Regions from separate parts of the Homo sapiens genome. Here region 2 is linked to region 1. Evidence: fine-mapped expression QTL. A gene starts in region 1. The other region holds a variant in brackets. All regions are shown on one strand. Distances are from middle to middle.

Evidence for each region. PIP is the estimated chance that this variant, and not a neighbour inherited with it, causes the effect.
Region 2: its variant is fine-mapped to the expression of FTSJ3 in adrenal gland (GTEx, PIP above 0.99).

What each region holds. Positions count from the first base shown.
Region 1 is chr17:63,824,285-63,832,688 of GRCh38, forward strand. FTSJ3 (FtsJ RNA 2'-O-methyltransferase 3) reads right to left here and starts at 3,379. Exons shown (of 21, transcript NM_017647.4): 1 at 2,768-3,379; 2 at 2,552-2,644; 3 at 2,283-2,388; 4 at 1,974-2,020; 5 at 1,772-1,851; 6 at 1,252-1,351; 7 at 958-1,152; 8 at 764-879; 9 at 541-645; 10 at 353-453; 11 at 47-127. The coding sequence starts at 2,618. It overlaps PSMC5 (proteasome 26S subunit, ATPase 5), which reads left to right and starts at 3,147. Exons shown (of 12, transcript NM_002805.6): 1 at 3,147-3,230; 2 at 3,854-3,925; 3 at 5,210-5,279; 4 at 5,568-5,665; 5 at 5,849-5,905; 6 at 5,987-6,217; 7 at 6,525-6,651; 8 at 6,752-6,942; 9 at 7,043-7,141; 10 at 7,222-7,332; 11 at 7,440-7,526; 12 at 7,632-7,735. The coding sequence starts at 3,207. The coding sequence ends at 7,685. SMARCD2 (SWI/SNF related BAF chromatin remodeling complex subunit D2) reads right to left here. Exons shown (of 13, transcript NM_001098426.2): 13 at 7,797-8,404. RefSeq lists enhancers at 2,492-3,691, 2,828-3,107, 3,488-3,537.
Region 2 is chr17:63,882,517-63,894,612 of GRCh38, forward strand. No RefSeq gene overlaps it. Among named protein-coding and RNA genes, the nearest start is that of GH2, 6.6 kb to the left of the region's middle. The variant A/C (reference allele first, on the strand shown) is at 6,598.

The DNA.
Region 1 (8,404 bases):
CCCTGGACACCCAGTCCACACCTGCCTCGCTGCGTTCTCTCCTCACCTGATGTCCAGTGCCTTTGCTTGTTCTTTCAGCTTCTTGGCCACATATCGCCGAAGTTTTGTTCTCCAGTTTAGTAGCGACCTGCCCCAGAGATACTATTACTGATCTTGCCATCTCCCTCTTTGTCCCCGCCCCCTTCTGTTTTAGGCTCACTACCCACCTTTCGGGCTTCGGCTACATAAATCAAAAGGCTCAGGCCCCCATCCCAAACCTTTAGCACAGCAATATCCTCTTCCCAGAGGTCCAACATCATGGCCTTTCCCTGCCTCCAGGGCTCCTGGCCCCCGTGCCTACCCCACTCCATACCTGAGCTCCTTGCGCCCCAACACTCTGATGTCCTGACAGCACACCCGTATGTCCTCAGTGGTAGCTGGATGCTGTGCCAACTCTTCATCATCTACCATGATCTGTTTGGGAGGATGGAAAGGTGTCAGGGGAGATCCTCAGGCCATGTTTCTGGGGCTACCTCATGTCCCTCAAGGCTGGAGACTCACTTCGCTGGCCTTGGAGAGGAAGTCAACAGGGTTGGCAGCTCGGAGGAAGTCAGTGACTGAGGTACGGTGATAGAGAGTGAGGTCACCCTCAGCATAGCCTTCAGCCTTAGGAAGGAAAAGAGAGAAGCTTGGTCAGGCCCTTCTAAGGTACCTGTAGGACCCACCAGGCCCAACCTCCCTAGAGTTCCAGGACCCAAGAGTGACCCCATTCCCCAAAACACACCTTTGGCTTCTTCTTAGTAACCAATTCAGTAACGGTCTTAGCCTGAACTTCAACCTCCTTAAAGGCAAATTTGGGGTCAAAGAATTTACTGTCAACCTTGTCAGGGGCCAGGAATCCTAAAAATGACAGGATATATTAAAAAGTGTGCTTTGGGAGTTGGGAGCCTGGATCAAGAGAAAGGAAATGATGCCCACCTTGGCAGACTACAAAGATCTCTGCAGATTCATGGCGAGAGGCTTGGGGCTTGGTGGCCTGGACACGGCGGAACAGCTGCTGAAAGATCCATAGCAGAGGCTGATAGTCACGAGAACGGAAAACCTTTGTGATGAAGCTGCCACCACGGGCCAAAAAGTCACAAGCCAAACGTAGAGCCATCAGTGTCAAATGGGCTGTAGGATAGAGACAATTAGTTGACGCACTCTGCAGCCCAGGAGGGCATGCGCCCACCTCCACCATCACCTGATCTCCAAGCACCACACTCCCTGTACCTTGTGAGTAAGCATCATGGACCCAGCTAGCCCCAACGTTGGGGGCCCCATCATTGAGCACAACATCAACCTTCCAGGTCTTCAGCTCCTTCCTCAGGGCCTAAAGAGAAGAAAAGGAACTATGGAAACAGAAACACTGGAATGGCCCTGGTTCAGCCATTTGTCCATCTAGTCATTTGCTGAGTGCCCATCATGGGCCAAATGCAGTACCAGGCACAGGAGATACAATAGTAAACAAAAACAGTATGTCTCTACCTTCATGGAGATTACAGTCTGACACTGAATTCACAGGAGAAGACTTCACTAAAGATCTCTGCCCTTCTCCCAATTCCAAACACCTTTATCCCTGACTCTAAATAAAGCCTGGAGTGGACACTACGAATGCCATAGGTCTTGTCGTACAGATGTCAGGCAAGAACGTGCTCAAAGCACGGTAAAAAGGAAAAACTTGCCTTTAGAGGATTTCAGGGATGTAGATGTTTCCGTATAAAGGGGGAAGGAAGAGAGAGACTCCTATTACCTGCCTACAACGTTCTGTTGTGATGTCCTGCTGGAGAGTCACCACATTGGGGAGAGGCTTGATTGGAACCAGGTCCACTCCTGGAAGAAATCAGGTCAGAGTATTCTAAAAGGTTGCTTCAAGCAGGGAGGAGAGAAATACAGGACAAAATACCTTATACACCCACCCCTTAAAACACCAAGGAGAGCTGTCCGTTACTCACCCACAATAAGGCTGGATACAGGCATAAACTTGGCAGCTACCTGCAGCCTATAAAAGGAACAGAAATTTAAAAACCTAGAGCCATCCTTTTCCCCCTCTTGGCAACTGATCTCTCATCCCTGGTGTTACGTGTACTGGCCAAAGCATATCATAGGCACGTATTCCAAGCCCTTTCTCTGCAATCAAGAAAGGAAACGGCCCCCAAGAGGACCGGGATTCGGGTTCCCCTCCCGCAGTGAAACTGGAAGCCATCCCAGCTCAGAACCCAGAAAGCGGCCACCAGGAGCAACCTGTGGCGAGTGTTACGAACCATCCCCCTGGCGCAGCACACAGGTCCAGCAAGGCTCGGGCTTTCTGCAGGAACTGAAAGCGGCGATTGAGCTGGATCAGCTTGAAAGCAGATCGGGAACGGTAACCTGGACAAAACAACCAAGTGCGCAAACTGCTTCACTAGTAGGATTTCTCCGGCCTCGCAACCGACCACCCCTTCTGCAGGAGAGGTACATAATGGTCGCAAAGAGCAGGCGAACCGGGCAGAGATCGCTCGCTCGCTCGCAGACTGAGCGAATCCGGACTCACCCGTCTCCTTCGCCAAGTGATAAAACTTGTCTCGTCGGCTCTTGCCAACTTTGCCCTTCTTGCCCATGGTGGAAAGGGGGAGTATCCCTCAATCTGGGGAGAAAGTAGAAGTTGGGAACGTCTCTTTCCGGAGCACCAGATTCCACTTCCAGTTTCCCACTTCCAGTTTCCCACTTCCCGCAGCAATTCCACCCCGCGCCCCTCTCCGCACACTACCTAGACCCAGAGCCGCTTTCTCCACACTTGGAACCGCACAAGTATGCAGCTAACTACTTCCGCTTCCGCTTGCGTCCCCTGCGTCCCTGGCTCGAGGTTTTCCGCCATTTTGAGTGTGGCCCTAGATTGTTCTCAATACTCTGTCCTTGGGTTTTGTAAGTTGAAAGTTGAGACTAGGAAGGCATATCACAAGAACTATAAACAGAGTTTCAATGAGGCAACACTGAGGAGGAGTTCTACTCCTTCCTCATCCCCTTCCAAAGCCCCTGAACTCGAGTAGCCGCCCCTCCCATCATGGTTCCCTTAGTGTGGTCTCGCCGCACACCCCGCCCATTGACCCGGAATTCTTCTCTGCCTGGTCTTCAGGTCCCAATCCTCCGCTTCCGCGCTTGCGCGCCAAGACGGCTCGGATGCCGGCGGTCTCTGCTGAAGAGAGAAGATGGCGCTTGACGGACCAGAGCAGGTATGGCGGGTGCAGTGGCGGCCCGGCAGGTTACGGGGCTGGGTGCGGAGCGAGCGTGATCTGAGTGGAGAGCGGGCCGGGGCAGGAGCGTCGGGTGGGTCGGAGGTGCCTGGACCAGTCCATGCTGGACGCTGCCTGCGACCGGATCTGCTGTGTCAGCGCCGCCCTCGGTGAGTCAGGGCAAGGCTGGGAGAGGAAGACGCGGTAGAAGCGGAGTGAGTGAGGGAAGCGATGGGCGCGGGAATGGCCGGCCCACGGGTCGCAGGAGACGGGACGCCAGTCCTTTGGCTCCGTTCCGCTGGCTCCTTCGTCAGTACTGACACCTCGGGCTTGTAGAGCACTTCACGCAGTGCAAAGCGCCCCCCGTCTATATCATATCGCCTCTCGGTCCTCCTAAAAGTCGTATGAGGTAGGCGGCGTTCCCATTCTTTTATTTTAGTCCTGGGAAAATGGAGGGTTCCAAGGGAGGGAGGGATTAGAACCCAGATCCTGAGCCTCCGAAGTCCAAACTTTTTCTACTACGCAAAGCTACCTGGTGTCAAGCCTTATTCAAAGTGCCCTGCAAGTGGCTTTACCCCCTCGGATGTTTAACCTGTCGTTTAAGACTCACTCTGTGTCTTCAGATGGAGCTGGAGGAGGGGAAGGCAGGCAGCGGACTCCGCCAATATTATCTGTCCAAGATTGAAGAACTCCAGGTGAGGACGGACTCCAGAGGGAGCTAGGAAGGGTGATGATGGGGGATGGAAACGGACTTCCACAAATCCATCTAATTCCTTTGGGAGTGCAGTGGAAGAAGCTGCTGCTTCTCCTTTCTTGTTTGTTTCTTAGCTAGTAGGGTGTATGTATCAGAAGTAAGCAATCTCTTGTTCTCCTCCAGTCCCATCTCTTTGAGGGTCTTAGTGTTCACAGTTTGTTACACATCTTCGAGTCAAATCTTAATAGTAAAGGTACCTCTAGCCAAAGGTCAACCCTTTTGGAAGAAGCCCGAATGAAAAGGATTCTTATAAAAGGGAAACATAAGCTCAGGAGTTGAAATTTATCACCAAGAGGTTGGGTGAGGGTGAAGTGAGAATGTGAGGAAGGGCATCATTGAGGGATCTGGACAATGCTAATTCCATAGAGACTGAATGAAAGAAATTGGGCAACCCAGAGCCCTAGCCTAAAGCGCTAAACCATAGAAAAAGGACCGTTTATGTTGTTAATCAAATGTTTGTGTTACCAGTAAGGCTTCCAGCAGTAAGGTATGGCTTCCAGTAGTAAGCCTTACAGACAACATAAACAGTAGTCTGTTAGTGTTACGTTATACTGTTACGGTAGGCTGTTAGTAGTTTAACTTTGGACAGGTCCATGGATTTTCAATTTCACCCTAACCCCCTGCGTTGTTCAAGTGTCAACTGTAATATAAATTGGATGGGGGAAAGCCACAAAAGACAATTCTGAATTCCAAGTGCATTTGCAGGTATTATGTTTAGTTTACCATTTTTGAATGCTTTTTCATGTGTTTTTATTCGTTCACCTTAGTAGTCTTGAAGCAGGGTAGCTGATGCTATACCCATGTGCCGTTTGGTAACAGATCTAGATTTTTAAAAATAGATTGTCTTACCTTTACTTTGCTTTTGATTGACAGCGGCTGGGCTAGAACTCAGGTTTCTCACCTAACAATCTTTCCACCAGGTGTTGTTGCCTTCCTGCAAGAAATTTGGTGTTACATGAGCCAGCTGTAACTTTTCTCCATTAGATTCTGTTACTCCTGGACCAGTATTGGACAAGCAGCCTTCTTTGATGGCTGCTGTAAGGTCCAGAGGGACTCTTGAAGGACAGGGCAGGGTCATTAGGATCATACTGGAGAATCTGAAACAACATGCAGGTGCCCTGTGCCCTTCCCTCAGCTCATTCAGACCTGTGAGGTCTTGGCCAAGATCCTACCTCCTCCTGTCTCCTGCCCTTGAATAATGGAATTTGTCTCTTGTCTGCCACAGCTGATTGTGAATGATAAGAGCCAAAACCTCCGGAGGCTGCAGGCACAGAGGAACGAACTAAATGCTAAAGGTGAGTGGAGAAAGATGGGAAGCCGCATGTGGGCAGTTTGTCTGAGGTCTGTCCTTATCTCCCTGCACTGTGTCTTCACAGCAGTGCTTACTGTTTTCTCCCTGTCATCATCTAGTAGTTTCACATGCATCTCTTTTTCCTGAGCCCTATTGTAGCCTCCTTAAATACATGAATTTTGACCTTTGGCCTTCCTTTAATAAGAGTGATGCTTAGCTCATGCACGTAGAATTGGGTCCTGGAGACTCCAAAGGAGTAGCTAGGTGACCACTGTGTCTGTTTGCCATCTAGTTCGCCTATTGCGGGAGGAGCTACAGCTGCTGCAGGAGCAGGGCTCCTATGTGGGGGAAGTAGTCCGGGCCATGGATAAGAAGAAAGTGTTGGTCAAGGTAAAAGCAGCATGACCCCAGGGACCAGCTCGGTCTCCACTGCATTCCCACCCCTTTGTGTGTAGCCTCGGGAGACAGGGTTCTGTGTTCTGTCAAGGTATTGTGGGATTCTCATAGGTCTTCCTGGGTAGGATTAGTGATTTGGTGGCTGTCAAGGAAGGTCATGAGCCCTTGTTTCTTTAGGTACATCCTGAAGGTAAATTTGTTGTAGACGTGGACAAAAACATTGACATCAATGATGTGAGTGTAGCAGGTGAGGTGGTGGTGGTGGTGGGGTCAGCTCTTACTGTACCACTTCTGAAACTCGCCCCCTTCACCCAGGTGACACCCAATTGCCGGGTGGCTCTAAGGAATGACAGCTACACTCTGCACAAGATCCTGCCCAACAAGGTAGACCCATTAGTGTCACTGATGATGGTGGAGAAAGTACCAGATTCAACTTATGAGATGATTGGTGGACTGGACAAACAGATCAAGGAGATCAAAGAAGTGATCGAGCTGCCTGTTAAGCATCCTGAGCTCTTCGAAGCACTGGGCATTGCTCAGCCCAAGGTGAGGAGCAGGGCTTCTCTGAGAGGGCCAAGCTGTACTTACTCCTCCTGCCCCAGCCAGCCCTACTGCAGGGGTTGGGGAGGCACCGGGATAGGCTGCATCTTGCTTGGGCTGGCCCTCCCCCTGAAAAGAGTGGCTGGGGAAGTGTTCCTAGGGCGGTGAGGTGGTTTGGATAGAAGGGACCTTGATGTTCCTTTTTTTTTTTTGTATCCCTAACATCTAGCAAGGGACCCAGCACTCGGTAAATGTTCACTGAATGAAATGAGGGGTGTAGCTTTCTGCCCTGAGTCCTGCTGTTCCCCTGTAGGGAGTGCTGCTGTATGGACCTCCAGGCACTGGGAAGACACTGTTGGCCCGGGCTGTGGCTCATCATACGGACTGTACCTTTATTCGTGTCTCTGGCTCTGAACTGGTACAGAAATTCATAGGGGAAGGTAACCATGGCTAGCAATGTGAGAAGCAAGAGGTAGGGGTAGGGGGTTAGAGAGCTAATAAGCTAATAAGCTCCCTAACACCAGCTCGGCCTCCACACAGGGGCAAGAATGGTGAGGGAGCTGTTTGTCATGGCACGGGAACATGCTCCATCTATCATCTTCATGGACGAAATCGACTCCATCGGCTCCTCGCGGCTGGAGGGGGGTTCTGGAGGGGACAGTGAAGTGCAGCGCACGATGCTGGAGTTGCTCAACCAGCTCGACGGCTTTGAGGCCACCAAGAACATCAAGGTAAGGTGGTAGCATCCTTGGGATGGGCCCAGGGAAGGCCTGGGTGCCACGCAGGCTGAGGAAGAGGTTTAGCTGATCCCCACTTGCTTTCTCTGCTCAGGTTATCATGGCTACTAATAGGATTGATATCCTGGACTCGGCACTGCTTCGCCCAGGGCGCATTGACAGAAAAATTGAATTCCCACCCCCCAATGAGGAGGTTTGTGATGGACACTGTGCAAAGTGGCTCTGGCTGTGGGGGTGGGGTGTGGGGCTCAGGCTTTTCCTTGCCATCTCCAGGCCCGGCTGGACATTTTGAAGATTCATTCTCGGAAGATGAACCTGACCCGGGGGATCAACCTGAGAAAAATTGCTGAGCTCATGCCAGGAGCATCAGGGGCTGAAGTGAAGGTAATTGGAGTACCCACTGAAAACAGGGCAGAGGCAGGAAGCTCTGGGCTCAAGGGCCACAGATGAGGGGCACAGCAGTGGGGCCTCAATTTCCTTTTCCTGTTCAGGGCGTGTGCACAGAAGCTGGCATGTATGCCCTGCGAGAACGGCGAGTCCATGTCACTCAGGAGGACTTTGAGATGGCAGTAGCCAAGGTATAGGCCTCCATCTTTGTGCCTTTGCCAGTGGTGGCTCTGGGGCAGTGGGCTAGGGCATGTGTGTGTTCGTAACTTAATGTTCATTCTCTCTCCCACCCCTAGGTCATGCAGAAGGACAGTGAGAAAAACATGTCCATCAAGAAATTATGGAAGTGAGTGGACAGCCTTTGTGTGTATCTCTCCAATAAAGCTCTGTGGGCCAAGTCCTCTAGGACTCCAGTCTGTTAATGAGGGCTGTGCTGTTCAAGGACCAGGTCCAGGCACCACCAATAGACAAAAGGATTTATTTGGAAATTTCCAAACCTGCCAGATGTGGCACTCGCCAAGCCCTAGGCCCACCCTCCTCACCAAGCTCCAAAGGGCAACACCAGTCCTCCCAGCCTCCCCATTCACCTTACCCTGGCCTCCACATGCACATACCCCATACCTCAGGCCATGCTAGAGAACTGGAGTGTCCCCTCCCCGGCCCAAGCCGCTGGAGAGGCAGCCCTCTGGCATCCCAGGAGATGATGGCGGCCAGAGCCGCTTGCATAGATTGAGGAAAGAAAAGAAGGAGGCACCTAACAGGCTCCCTGAAAACCCCCAACTTACCCCTGTACAAAAAAAGTGGCTCCCACATAGAAAACTTGCTCCCAAAATAGTGCAAATACCCAAAGGAAAGGAAAAAACCAGCAGCAAGGCTGGGCTTGTAGGAATGGCAAAGAACTTTGGTTTAGAAAGGCTAGGAAGAGTCTGGGCTGCACCTCCTCTTCCTAGCCCAGCTCCCCAGAGCCAGCTCTGACCCTCGCCCCAGGGGGAGTCTGTAAACATGCAAACCCAGCAGCCTTTGGTTCGGAAATGTCTTACAATGTCAAAGCACAGCCTCCAGCAGTCCT
Region 2 (12,096 bases), 60 kb after region 1:
GGGTGTGGGTGTGGGAGGGGTGGGGGGGGGGCTCCCCCAGGTCCCTGGGGACGAATAACCCAGACTCAAGGTATTGCCCCAGCTCCTTGGACCTGTAGCAGAGATACAAACCAAGAAACAGAAATCCCGGGAACAGACACGGACCACAAGCGCTTCCTCCCATAGTCCTGAAACCAACAGAGAATCTCAAAGTTGGAAGAGCTCTTGAAGATTTGAGTCTCTTCCCCAGCTTTAAAACTCAGAACACATCACGCCAAAAGACGCCCTATCCAGCCATGGAAGCCCCTCCTCTTTTGTCTCCTCCTCCTTTCCAGACCTGTGTAGAGCTTATCCAGTTGCCAAGGGCCTGCCTGTGCATTCTCACGTCTGAACTGCCACTTGTCTTGTGTAGGAGCTATGACTATCATCCCATTTCACAGATCAGGAGACTGAGGCTCAGAGAGACTGATTACATGAGCTACCTCAGCCAGGGCAGCAGATCTTCACAACCTTGCTCTTCCCACATTGCGTCATTTAAAGTCCTTTCTCCAGGCCGGGCACGGTGGCTCATGCCTATAATCCCAGCACTTTGGGAGGCTGAGGTGGGTGGATCACTTAAGGTCAGGAGTGCAAGACCAGGCTAACCCACATGGCAAAACTCCATCTCTCCTAAAAATACAAAAATTAGCTGGGCATGGTGGCACGAGCCCGTAATCCCAGCTACTTGGGAGGCTGAGGCAGGAGAATCGCTTGAACCCAGGAGGCAGAGGTTGCTGTGAGCCAAGATTGCGCCACTGCACTCCAGCCTGGATGACAGAGCGAGTCTACATCTCAAAAAAAAAAAAAAAAAAAATCCTTTCTCCATAGCACGTAGTGTGGTGCTACTCAGTTATTTAGTTATTTTAGCTTCATTTCCTTTTTTTTTTTTTTTGAGATGGAGTCTCATTCTGTCACCCAGGCTGGAGTTCAGTGGCATGATGTTGCTTCACAGCAACCTCCACCTTTGGGTTCCGGTGATTCTCCCGCCTCAGCCTCCCAAGTAGCTGGGATTACAGGCGTCCACCACTATGCCGGGCTAAGATTTGCACTTTTTTAGTAGAGACGGGGGTTTCACTATGTTGGCCAGGCTGGTCTCGAACTCTTGACTTTAGGTGATCCACCCTCCCTGGCCTCCCAAAGTACTGAGATTACTTGCGTGAGCCACTGCTCCCAACCCAGTTATTTCAGCTTCTATATCCCTCTGAGTGCAGGGATCCTGCCCCCAACACAAGGGGCCCTTTGCCTCATTTTGTCTTTCCATAAGGGGCAGATTGTTCTTTCTCAATTCTCAGGTGAGAATGGCCCAGTGGCATGGGGTGCCTTGTGGAAACCTCAGAGCAGGACAAGGTGAAGGCAGAGAAGGCCAGGACTGAGCCTCCTGTCTCCTGGTGCCCAGGGTTGGGGCTACTTCAATATAATCTGGAGGTCACAAGCATCAGATACCCCCAGAGATGAGAGCAGGAAAGAGCACCCTCTCTAGTGGTGAAATCTTCCCCCCTGAGTTTAAGAGCATCTAGCACTTGACTCTGTAGAAACACAAGCAAGCAAACAAGCAAATGCTTCCAGAAGTGGTTGGCTGTGGTGTTGGCAACCAACATTGAAAACCCACACCCCTGTGGCCTAGGATGTGAATGCTGGGGCCCTGCCATCTCCCCACTTTCAGAGCAGAAAACAGAGCTCCATTTTCTGCCATCATTCCTGAAACATTATCGGACCAGCACCCCAGACTCATCACCTGCTGGGAGGGCACTGTGCTGTGGGCTGTTCTCCAGGCCCGCCTGTGTGAGGATCCAAGAGGGGTGTCATCAATGATACCAGCTCTGAGAAATATGTGGCCAAGGGAGGGTGGAGTCACCACTTTCCCCTGCTCCTTCCAGCACCAGCAAAGAGGAGGAGCTAGGTGGGAATGGAAGAGGGTCCCTGAGCTCCATGTAGCTTTCTGCCTCCCCCACCATCCTTCCTCCAATGTCAGCTGGGACAGGGAGCCCCCATGACAGGTCCTTTTAGCCAGTTCTGGGGACTTCGATGTGGATTTTCGGCCATGGAAGAAGTCTCCAGCCTCCCTTAGGAATGAGGGTGGCAGGGGCCCTAGTTGGGGACCACTGCATAACTCCGCAGGTGGGCACAGGGGTGGCAAGGCTCCCCAGGCAGGTTACTGACAGCAACACGTGGGACCAGCCGGGGCAGGGGAGTGTCTCCTCTCACCTCTCCACTTCTGTTGACCCCAGAATTATGGTGACTCAGAGGACTCTAGGGACCCCTGGGGAAACACCTTTATAAGGGATTACCATGGTAACCATGGACCAGAGGGAAGAACTGAGGCCCACAGGTGTGGGTAGAAGTCAATGATCATTTTCTCTAGTCTAGATCTTCCCAGAGCCTTGAGCAATGGAGACCACATCCATCATTCATTGCTAGTAAAAAATCATCTTTGAATTAGACTTGGGATTCCCCTGACAGTACTGGGAGGTCGCCCACTGTTGGGGCATCACTTGAGGCCAGATCCCTGGCTCCTGCAGGCTGAGAGAGTACCCAACAAGAGCCTCCACATGGCCAATGGGGAGAGGCTGCGCTTTGCACCTCTGGCGTCAGCTTCAAAAGGCTCAGGATAGGCCGGCGTGGTGGCTCATGCCTGTAATCCCAACACTTTGGGAGGCTGAGACATGTGGATCACCTGAAGTCAGGAGTTTGAGACCAGCGTGGCCAACATGGTGAAACTGATCTCTACTAAAAATAGAAAAATTAGCCGGGTGTGGTGGCATGCGCTTGTAATCCTAGTTACTGGAGCGGCTGAGGCACAAGAATTGCTTGAACCTGGGAGGCAGAGGTTGTCATGAGCCGAGATCGCGCCACTGCACTCCACCCTGGGCGAAGGAGTGAGACTGACTTTGTCTCCAAAACAAACAAACAACCAAAAAAAACCAAAAAGAAAAGTAGAAAAATCCTCATCTCTGAGTTCACTGTTACCTAGCTCCTTACCCACCGAGAAACAAACATGGGAAGCAGGGGCCCCAGGGCCACCATGGACAGAGCAGGGTTATCATTTAGTCCAAATCCATAAGAACACCCTAGGTTTCATCTGGGACTCCCTGCCCATACGGAAAGTGGGAAAGAAGAGTTGGCTCAAAGCAGGGAGCTGCTAGTGCTCCCTTGGGAAGGAAAGCTGTTGGGTGGAGGGGACAGCATTTGGGTGAGGGGAGGAGAGGGAGCAGGGGGTGAAGTAGGGAGGGAGTGTGGTGCACTGAACTCAGCTCCTTGGGATACTGTTTCTGCAGACCAACCACGGTTAGAGGAATCCAGTTGCTCTGCCAAACAGACCTGGCTGGAAGGGATGGAACACACGCTCACCTGCGTCCCAAAGGGAAACCCAGCTCCAGCCTTGGTGTGTACCTGGAATGGGGTGGTCTTTGACCTTGAAGTGCCACAGAAGGCAACCCAGAACCACACTGGAACCTACCGCTGCACAGCCACTAACCAGCTGGGCTCTGTCAGCAAAGACATTGCTGTCATTGTTCAAGGTAACCTTTGCTGCCCTGCTGCCAGGCCCAGGATGGAAACCCCTCAGGGGTTTGGGATTCTTATCTAAGCATGAAAATAAGAAAGATTCTACTAGGTTGGGAAGAATGAGACTCAGAAGTGGGCCTGGTGGGCTGGGGTGGGTGATCCTTGTACTCTCAGACTTTCCTAACTCTATCTTCTGTGCTTGGGCAGGACTGGATGAAGGAATAAGCTCTACCCTCTTTGTCATTATTACCGTTGCCCTTGGAGTGGGTGTCATCACCATAGCACTGTATTTGAGCTATCGGCCCTGCAAAGTGGACAGGAGGAAATTGCTCTATAGGCAGAAAGAGGAGGACAAAGAGGAGGAAAGCCAGTTTGCTGTTCAGGAAGAGAAAAGTACAACTCATATAATTGACAACTGTTTGATTGAATGAGACTTCTGCTACTGTGGTTTCCCAGGGAGGGAAGAAGGGATAGAGGAGAAAGGAAGAAACACAATGGCAGGCTGCATTCCCCTTTGTGTACGTCTGTCCTGTAAAACGGTGTTTCAGGCCCCCATGCCCCATGTCCTGTGTGTCCAATATGTCCACAAGCTCACCATTCTCTCTCTCTCTCTCTTTTCTTTTCTTTTTCTTTTTCTTTTTTTTTTTTTTTGAGATGGAGTCTTGCTGTTGTCGCCTAGGCTGGAGTGCAATGATGCGATCCTGGCTCACTGCAACTGCAGCCTCCCGGGTTCAGGTGATTCTCTTGCCTCAGCCTCCCTGGCAGCTGGGATTACAGGTGCACACCACCATGCCTGTCTAATTTTTGTACTTTTCGTAGAGATGGGGTTTCACCATGTTGGCTGGGCTGGTCTCAAACTCCTGACCTCAAGTGATCCGGCCACCTTGGCCTCCCAAAGTGCTGGGATTACAGGTGTGAGCCACCGCGCCCAGCCACCTTTCTCTTTAGAGCTCACTCTATTCATTAGGAATCTCAGTCTCAATGTTTGATTTGTAAGAAGGCCTCTTGCTCCTTGCCAGGTGCATCATCAGTCCACTCTTAGATCCAAAAAAAAAAAAAGAAAAGATCTTGCCGTTTCTTCATGGTTCTCACTGCCCTTTTCTCTTAAACATCATACTAAAGTCAGGCATATCTTAGAAATACAACTCATATTTCATGGTTTTCTGATTACTAACTGGGAACTAAATCTGTAGTCCAAGGACAGGACTTTGAAGGGAGTAAGTATCAAATATGGGGCCAGGAATCAGAGCTCTGTTCCTATCTCCACTTTCCCTTGCTCCCCTGACCTGGGCTTCTGGAGGGCCAGCTCCCAGAGCTGAGCTTGTTGACATCATTAAGGATCAGTGGCAAGCTTCAACTCAGTAACCATCTGTTGCGGGTCTTGGGGGAGTATACAGATGGTAAGAAATTCCACTTTGGGCCAGACGGGCATCCTATCTAGCTCAGTATTCTGTCTCTGAAGGAGAAGGTAGAGTTCTTCCATGAAATTGGCCTCATAGGTTAAGAGCTCCAAACATCTCTGAATTCCTTTTCATAGAGTGATCAACTGTGAGTTCGCATTTGCCAGTTTTCTTTTTTTTACCCATATGGGCATCTAGGTTAAAGTTCCAATCTTTACTCTCCCTTTTCATCAATAAGTGCATATTTTCTTCTGTCTGTAAACAATTTCCTTGAAGCTTCAAGAGGAATCTTCTTGTGAAAATGTTCATATGATTTTATGTTTCAGCTTCTTTCCCTGTCCTTGAGAAAGAGTATATTCACCCTCGGAGAAGGCGTGAGGAATCACAGAACCAGATGTTTTCTCCCAAATCAGTCAAGAAATGTTCACTGGAATGTTGCTATGGTAAAAATAAAAGTGGTTTTATGATGTCCAAATGCAGTTCCCTTCCCTTCTGTGTCATTGCTAAAAGCTCTTATGTCAAATGGCTGCATTTTATAACTTTTTTTTTTAGATGGAGTCTCGCTCTTTGCCTAGGCTGGAGTGCAGTGGTGTGATTTCGGTCCACTTCAAACTCCACCCCCGGGTTGAAGCAATTCTCTGCCTCAGCCTCTATAGATTAAGAGTAGCTGGGATTACAGGCGCCCACCACCATGACCAGCTAATTTTTTGTATTTTTAGTAGAGACAGGGTTTCACCACCTTGGCCAGGCTGATCTTGAAGTCCCGACCTCGTGATCTACCCACCTCGGCCTTCTAAAGTGCTGGGATTACAGGCCTGAGCCATCACTCCCGGCTGCATTTTATAACTTTAAGTACAATTTCTAAGGAAAAAATACCGTGTTGATAGCATAAACAACCAGCCCAGGGCCGGGGGTGCATTAACTGAGGGCAGCAGCCTATTTGACCTGCTTTCAAAACTGAAATTCAGGCTGGTGTGGTGGCTCACGCCTGTAATCCCAGCACTTTGGGAGGCTGAGGCAGGTGAATCACTTGAGCCCTGGAGTTTGCGAATAGCCTGGGCAACATGGCAAAACCCCATTTCTACAAAAAACACAAAACTTAGCCAGGTATAGTGGCACATGCATGTAGTCCCAGCTACTTGAGAGTCTGAGGTGGGAGGATCACTTGAGCACGGGAGGTGGAGGGTTGCAGCGAGTTGAGATCATGCACTGCACTCCAGCCTGGGCAACGGAGCCAGGCCCTGTCTCAAAAGCAAAATAAAGGAACAAAAATGAAAGCTAAAGGTCAGACTTCCAGATAGAGAGAGGTCCATAGCCTTCCAAATTGCAGATACCAGCTAGAAAAAACCATGGCATCAGACAGCAGAGGGAAAACGTTTTCCCATTCTTCCCAGACCTCCCCTGAGTCTGGTGCTATAGATTAAGTGTAAAAGTAACCCTTTGGTTTCACCACATACAAGGCAGTGGGGATACAGTGGTGAACAAAACATTGTTCCTGGCTTCCAAAAATATATTAGGAAAGCTAGACAAACAAGTAGGAGATTACATTTGTGCATGAACTCCTATGACTGGGAAAACAGATTGTTAAGAGAAAGCATAACTCGGATCAAGGAAGGCTTCCCGGAGGGACACGAAATATCTTGACTTTGTAAAATAGCATCATCCCCGAACATGA[A/C]CTTTTCAACCTCAATGTTTCCACTAGGTGGAGCTACTGCTCCTTCATCATGTGAGTCTAATATAAATCATCCACCTTCCCTGAATTGAGCATTTGGGGAAGTAAGTTAAGAAGCAGGTTTAAGAGACAGGAGTATACAGCCACACCATGCAGGGATCCACAGCCATTTTGGTGTCAGGATCAGTCGCATCAGGGCTGTAGTTACCCTGTATCTGCAAACCCTGCCTCATGGCCTCAGTGCCTTGAAGCACAGCGAATCCAAAAAGGAAGGGAAAAATGAGCCAGGCATGGTGGTGTGCACCTGTAATCCCAGCTACTGGGGAGGCTGAGGCAGAAGAATCGCTTGAACCCGGGATACTGAGGTTGCAGTGAGCCAAGATTGCACCATTGCACTCCAGCCTGGGCAACAGAGTGACACCCCATCTTGAAGAAAACAAAAACAAAAGCAAACAAACAAAAAACAAAACAAACAAAACAAAAAAAAGAGGGAAGAAGGGGGCCACTTGGACTTTCTAGTTCCAGCAGGGAGATCCTGGAGGCTTAGCCGGCTGCTGCCTTTGCTTCTCACTGCCACAGGGTGTCAGTGTTGACAGATGGTCCCACACAGTACCCTCAAACCAAGCGGGTCTGCAGATCCGGGTTCCCAGCTGCTGTGGATCTCTGAGGGAGGATGATCTGCTTCTTCGGGGCCTGGTCCAGCTGCGGGTGTCCTCTTGCTGGGGTTTCCAGGGTTCCAGTTCTTAGAGCTCAGTAGTTTGGATGAGCCGTCCCGCAAAGCTCTTCAGAGTAGGCTGGGCTGTTTCCCTTGTAGACTTGGAACCTCTGTTCGCTTTCCTTCCCGAAGGATCCACACAACCAGTGGTCAGGCAGGCAGCCCCTTCTCATTGATTCTTTTTTTTCTTTTCTTTTTTTTTTTTTTTGGAGACAGAGTCTCGCTCTGTCTCCCAGGCTGGAGTGCAGTGGCACAATCTCGGCTCACTGCAACTTCTGCTTCCCAGCTTCAAGCAATTTTCCTGCCTCAGCCTCTGGAGTAGCTGGGATTCCAGATGTGCGCCACCACACCCGGCTAATTTTTGTGTTATTAGTAGAAACAGGATTTCATCATGTTGGCTAGGCTGGTCTCAAACTCCTGACCTCAGGTGATCTGCCCAGCTTGGCCTCTCAAAATGCTGGGAGTACAGGCGTGAGCCACCACACCCGGCTTCATTGATTCTTAAAGTAGGAAGGGTCTCATATCTCTTTTCCAGTATAATAGAGCTTCTAAGGGTAGCTGCCTCATTGTCTATAAGAGGAGGCCCCACCCTCTAAATGGTTTTGATCATATTCTTTCTGAACATTAAAGCAACCAGCTTATGCTTAAATTGCAGCTACCTTGATTATCTCCAGAGGAAGAGTGGCCTTTAATACTCCAAAAGTTTACCCTCTTTCTTACTATTTTTGAGAGAGAATCTTGCTCAGCCATCCAGCTGGAGGGCAGTGGCATGATGGGCTCAGTGCAACTCTGCCTCCTGGGCTCAAGTGATTCTCGCGCCTCAGTAGCTGGGAATACAGGTGTGCACCATCACACCTGGTAATTTTTGTATTTTTAGTAAGAGACGGGGTGCCACCATGTTGGCCAGGCTTGTCTCGAACTTGTGACGTCCTCCCGCCTCAGCCCTCCAAAGTGCTGAGATAACTGGCGTGAGCCACCGTGCCTGGCCGTTTATCCTCTCAAGGATGGTCAGGGTGACATTCTGGTGTCTTTCTCTCTAGACCTGAGAAAGCATAAGTTACATCGTTAGTGGGACTTCTTACCATAGGATTAATAATAGTATTTACCTTAGAGAATTATAATTAGAAAGAAATGACACAATACATGTAATAAACTAGCATGGTGCTGGAGATATGTGTTCACATTAGTTGTTTTTTATTATTACACTGATAATTCTAGTGGTAATTAAGCACATCTTTATAATCACAGTAAACTCAAAGCAAGAATCAGAAATCCATGATAACCATGAGGGCCATCAAAGGTCATATACACCGAGCACAGCTTTCCGGTTTTTCTAGTCTTTTTCTTGCTCCTTCCCCTACTTTCCCCACAGTTTGGTACCCTAAGATTTAGGACTACTAATAGGGTGACCAGTCCTGTTAGCTGAGTGTTCATTCAGCTGAGGGATCCCTGGAAGGAACGTGGGACTTTCAGTGTTGACATTGAGAAAGTCTCCTGCAAACTAGGACGAGTTGGTAACCCTAATCCCAGCGGTGCTCATTGTGTGCCACAGCACTTCAGGGCCTTCTGAATTAAAGAAGCAGCCAGGCAAAATGTCAGCTTGTCTTGGCCTAGAAGCCCAGACCCTGTAATTCAGAAGAAAAGGGAAGGGGTCAGTTCTGCTCTCAACTGTGTATAAAGGGACAAAACCCACCATGTGTATTTCGACAATGCTCATGGAAGAAATTCAGAATTGGTCACTTTAGGTTAGGGTAAATTCAAAAAAAATGACAGAGTCAGTAAAACATTATGCCAGGGGTCAAGGATGACTGGAGCTCTGCCTGCTGAACTCTTCCCTGTGCGAGTCTCACTAATCTTATCTTCAGGAAGAGTTTTCGATAGAAAATACCATTAAGGGCCAGGCCTGGTGGCTCCTGCCTATGATCCTATCACTTTGGGAGGCCAAGGTGGGTGGATCACCTGAGGCCAGGAGTTTGAGACCAGCCTGGCCAACATGGCGAAACCCTGTCTTTACCAAAAATACAAAAATCTGCCCTGTGTGGTGGTGCACACTTATAATCCCAGCTACTCAGGAGGCTGAGGCATGAGAATCACTTGAACCTGGGAGGAGGCGGAGGTTGCAGTGAGCCAAGATCCCACCACTGCACTCCAGCCTCTGTCTCAAAAACAAAAACAAAAACAAAACAAAAAGAAACTATTAACAATTTTTAGTTGTGAGAAGATATAAACGTTTCCATCTTAACCATTTTGCCTGTGCAGTTCAGTCATGTCAAGTACATTGACATCGTCATGCAACCCTCACCACCAACCATCTCCAGAACCCTTTTCATCTTGCACAGCTGAAACCCTGTGCTCATTAAATAGCTCCCTATTCCATCCCTCCCCACAGCCACTGGCAGCCACCATCCTACTTTTTGTCTCTATGAATTTGACTGCTCTGAGTACCTCATCTGACTGGAATCGGAGAGTATTTGTCTTTTTGTGACTGGCTCACGATAAACACTTTTAGATGACTGGTTGGAATTAGGAGCAGGTGGCACCACAACTGCCATCTCCTTTTTCTCCTTTTTCTCATCTCCTTTTTCTCTGTTTTCCCTGTTCCACCAGTACAACAGCTGTGAACACATGGGTCTCATCTTTGCGGTCCCTAACACGGTGGTTCTCAACCTTGTTTACATGTTAGAATCACCTGGGAAAGTTTTCAAATTACTCTTGCCTGGACCACATTCCAGTCTAATTATATCAGAATCTCAGGGAGTGAGGGCTCACGAATGCATCGTTTAGAAAACACCCTAGGCATCTCAAATTTGCAGCGGAAATTGCTGTCCACACCAAGTTGATGAGCTGAAATGTAGACTAACAGTGGGTAAATCAAAGAGTTTAAAGTAGATGGTCTTTAAGGTCTTTTTATATTTTAAAATGTGCAAAGTTGGTAGTATCTTTCTAATTCTCAACCAGCAGTGGTTGAGTGGAGTTTCCTATACCCGAGGGGAGCTGGGTGGACAGTCTCTGGAGTGTGGCTCCCCCTGCAGTTCAGTTACATGTTATGACCACCCCACTTTAGAACCCTCTTAGCCACCCAAGTAGGCGCTGGACATTGTCATTCCACTGTCACGTGCATTCAACAAATACTTATTAAGATGGCTCACATTTCCTTTTAAAACACGCAAGCCGAGAGATAATTATAATTGTGCTCATTCCATCAACTTCTAAAGACTGAGATTTCTAAATAATTTTAAGGCCAAATGAAGGACATTGCAGGAATATTGATTCCAGCTTCGTGCAAGAAATAGTTTTTTGCAATGAGAGTGGTTTAATAGAATGAGGAGCCTTGTGAAAGTGATTCCCTTGGTTCTAGTGCTACACACTCGTAAATGGAATACTGACTGTAATGGATGTTGTAGGATAAGATTCCCAAAGTAGAAGAAACTAGGCTGACTTATGAGGCCCTTCTAACTCCAAAATGCCATAATTTTAAAGCCCGATAGTAGAAGAACAATGCAAGATGCAGGAATGGCTTCTGAGCTGAGAAATGCAGCAGCTCCAGAATTCTGTTTAGTTCAACTTTCAACCACTTCCCAAGGACTGAGTTATTAATGGTAAAATAGCCAAAAATGAATACAAGTGGGTCTCATTATCAAGAAAATTCATTATAGCATTTAAGAATCGAACTTCTAAAGAAGATTAATTGGGGGGTTGATTATTTGCATTGCAAAACAATTCCTGACTTTATGAAATCATTTTTGGATACTAGAGTTCCTGTGAGCATCTTAGCATCGATTTATAGGTCACCAGTCACTTAGCCAAGGTGCTTGGGAGAGCAAACTCTTAACTAACCACCGCTCTTTAGTGCTTATTTGGAAATAATAAACATCTGAGATGTTTATTATTTCCTAATTGTCATTAGGAAAACAATATAATTTCACTACAGGTATTTAGACACTCCATCAGAAAACACAAAACATCCAAAAATTCAATGCAGAAATAGCTAGAATTTCTTGAGTACTATAATATATCAAAAATACCATTGCATTTAGTCCTCACATAATCCTTGTAAAGCAATATATTATTATCTCAGCTTGGTCAAGTAATTTATTCGGGGGCACTAAATTACATACAGCCCAAATCTTTCTGATTCTTTCCCTTACACCAAGTTACCCCAATCAACATCTCTTAGAACAAAATTGCTCACAGACAGCTTGGAGACCATGTGTGTTTCGGTTAATTTTTGCCCTTAAAAGATTTTCAATATGTGTTGCCAGTGTTTAAATGTTAGAATTCCTGTAAAAGTCTGGATGTCCTGGCTGTCTCAAAAGGTCAGAAGGTCTGGAAGCCGTGTCCCTGCAGTCCTGATGGTGACAGGCTGGGTGGGTCCCACCTCAGCAGGGGCCTGAGTTCTGCAGATTGTGCTGGTTCCCACCCCTCTGTGTTGCATCCCCCGAAGGGAAGTGAGTGTCATCTGGGATTTATCCCCTCCCATCCAGCCCTCATTGCTTACATTGTTATCTACCTGGAACCTGTTGGCACTGCATTTACAACCCCAAATAAAATCTCTCTTCCACTTCCCTTGCCCTAATTCAGATTCCAAATGCTCTGGTTCTGTATGTCTCAAACTCATTTTTGCATTGTTCTCATTTCCCGAGAGTAGTTGGGCTTAAGGAATACTCATCTTAAAATTCTTCCGAACACAAGTAATTCTATGCCATTGTTTCCTCACCTGTTGGGGAGTTTTTGCCTCTGCACTTAATAGCCCATCTTGTTTTCATTTCTTTCCGCTCCTGGGGGGC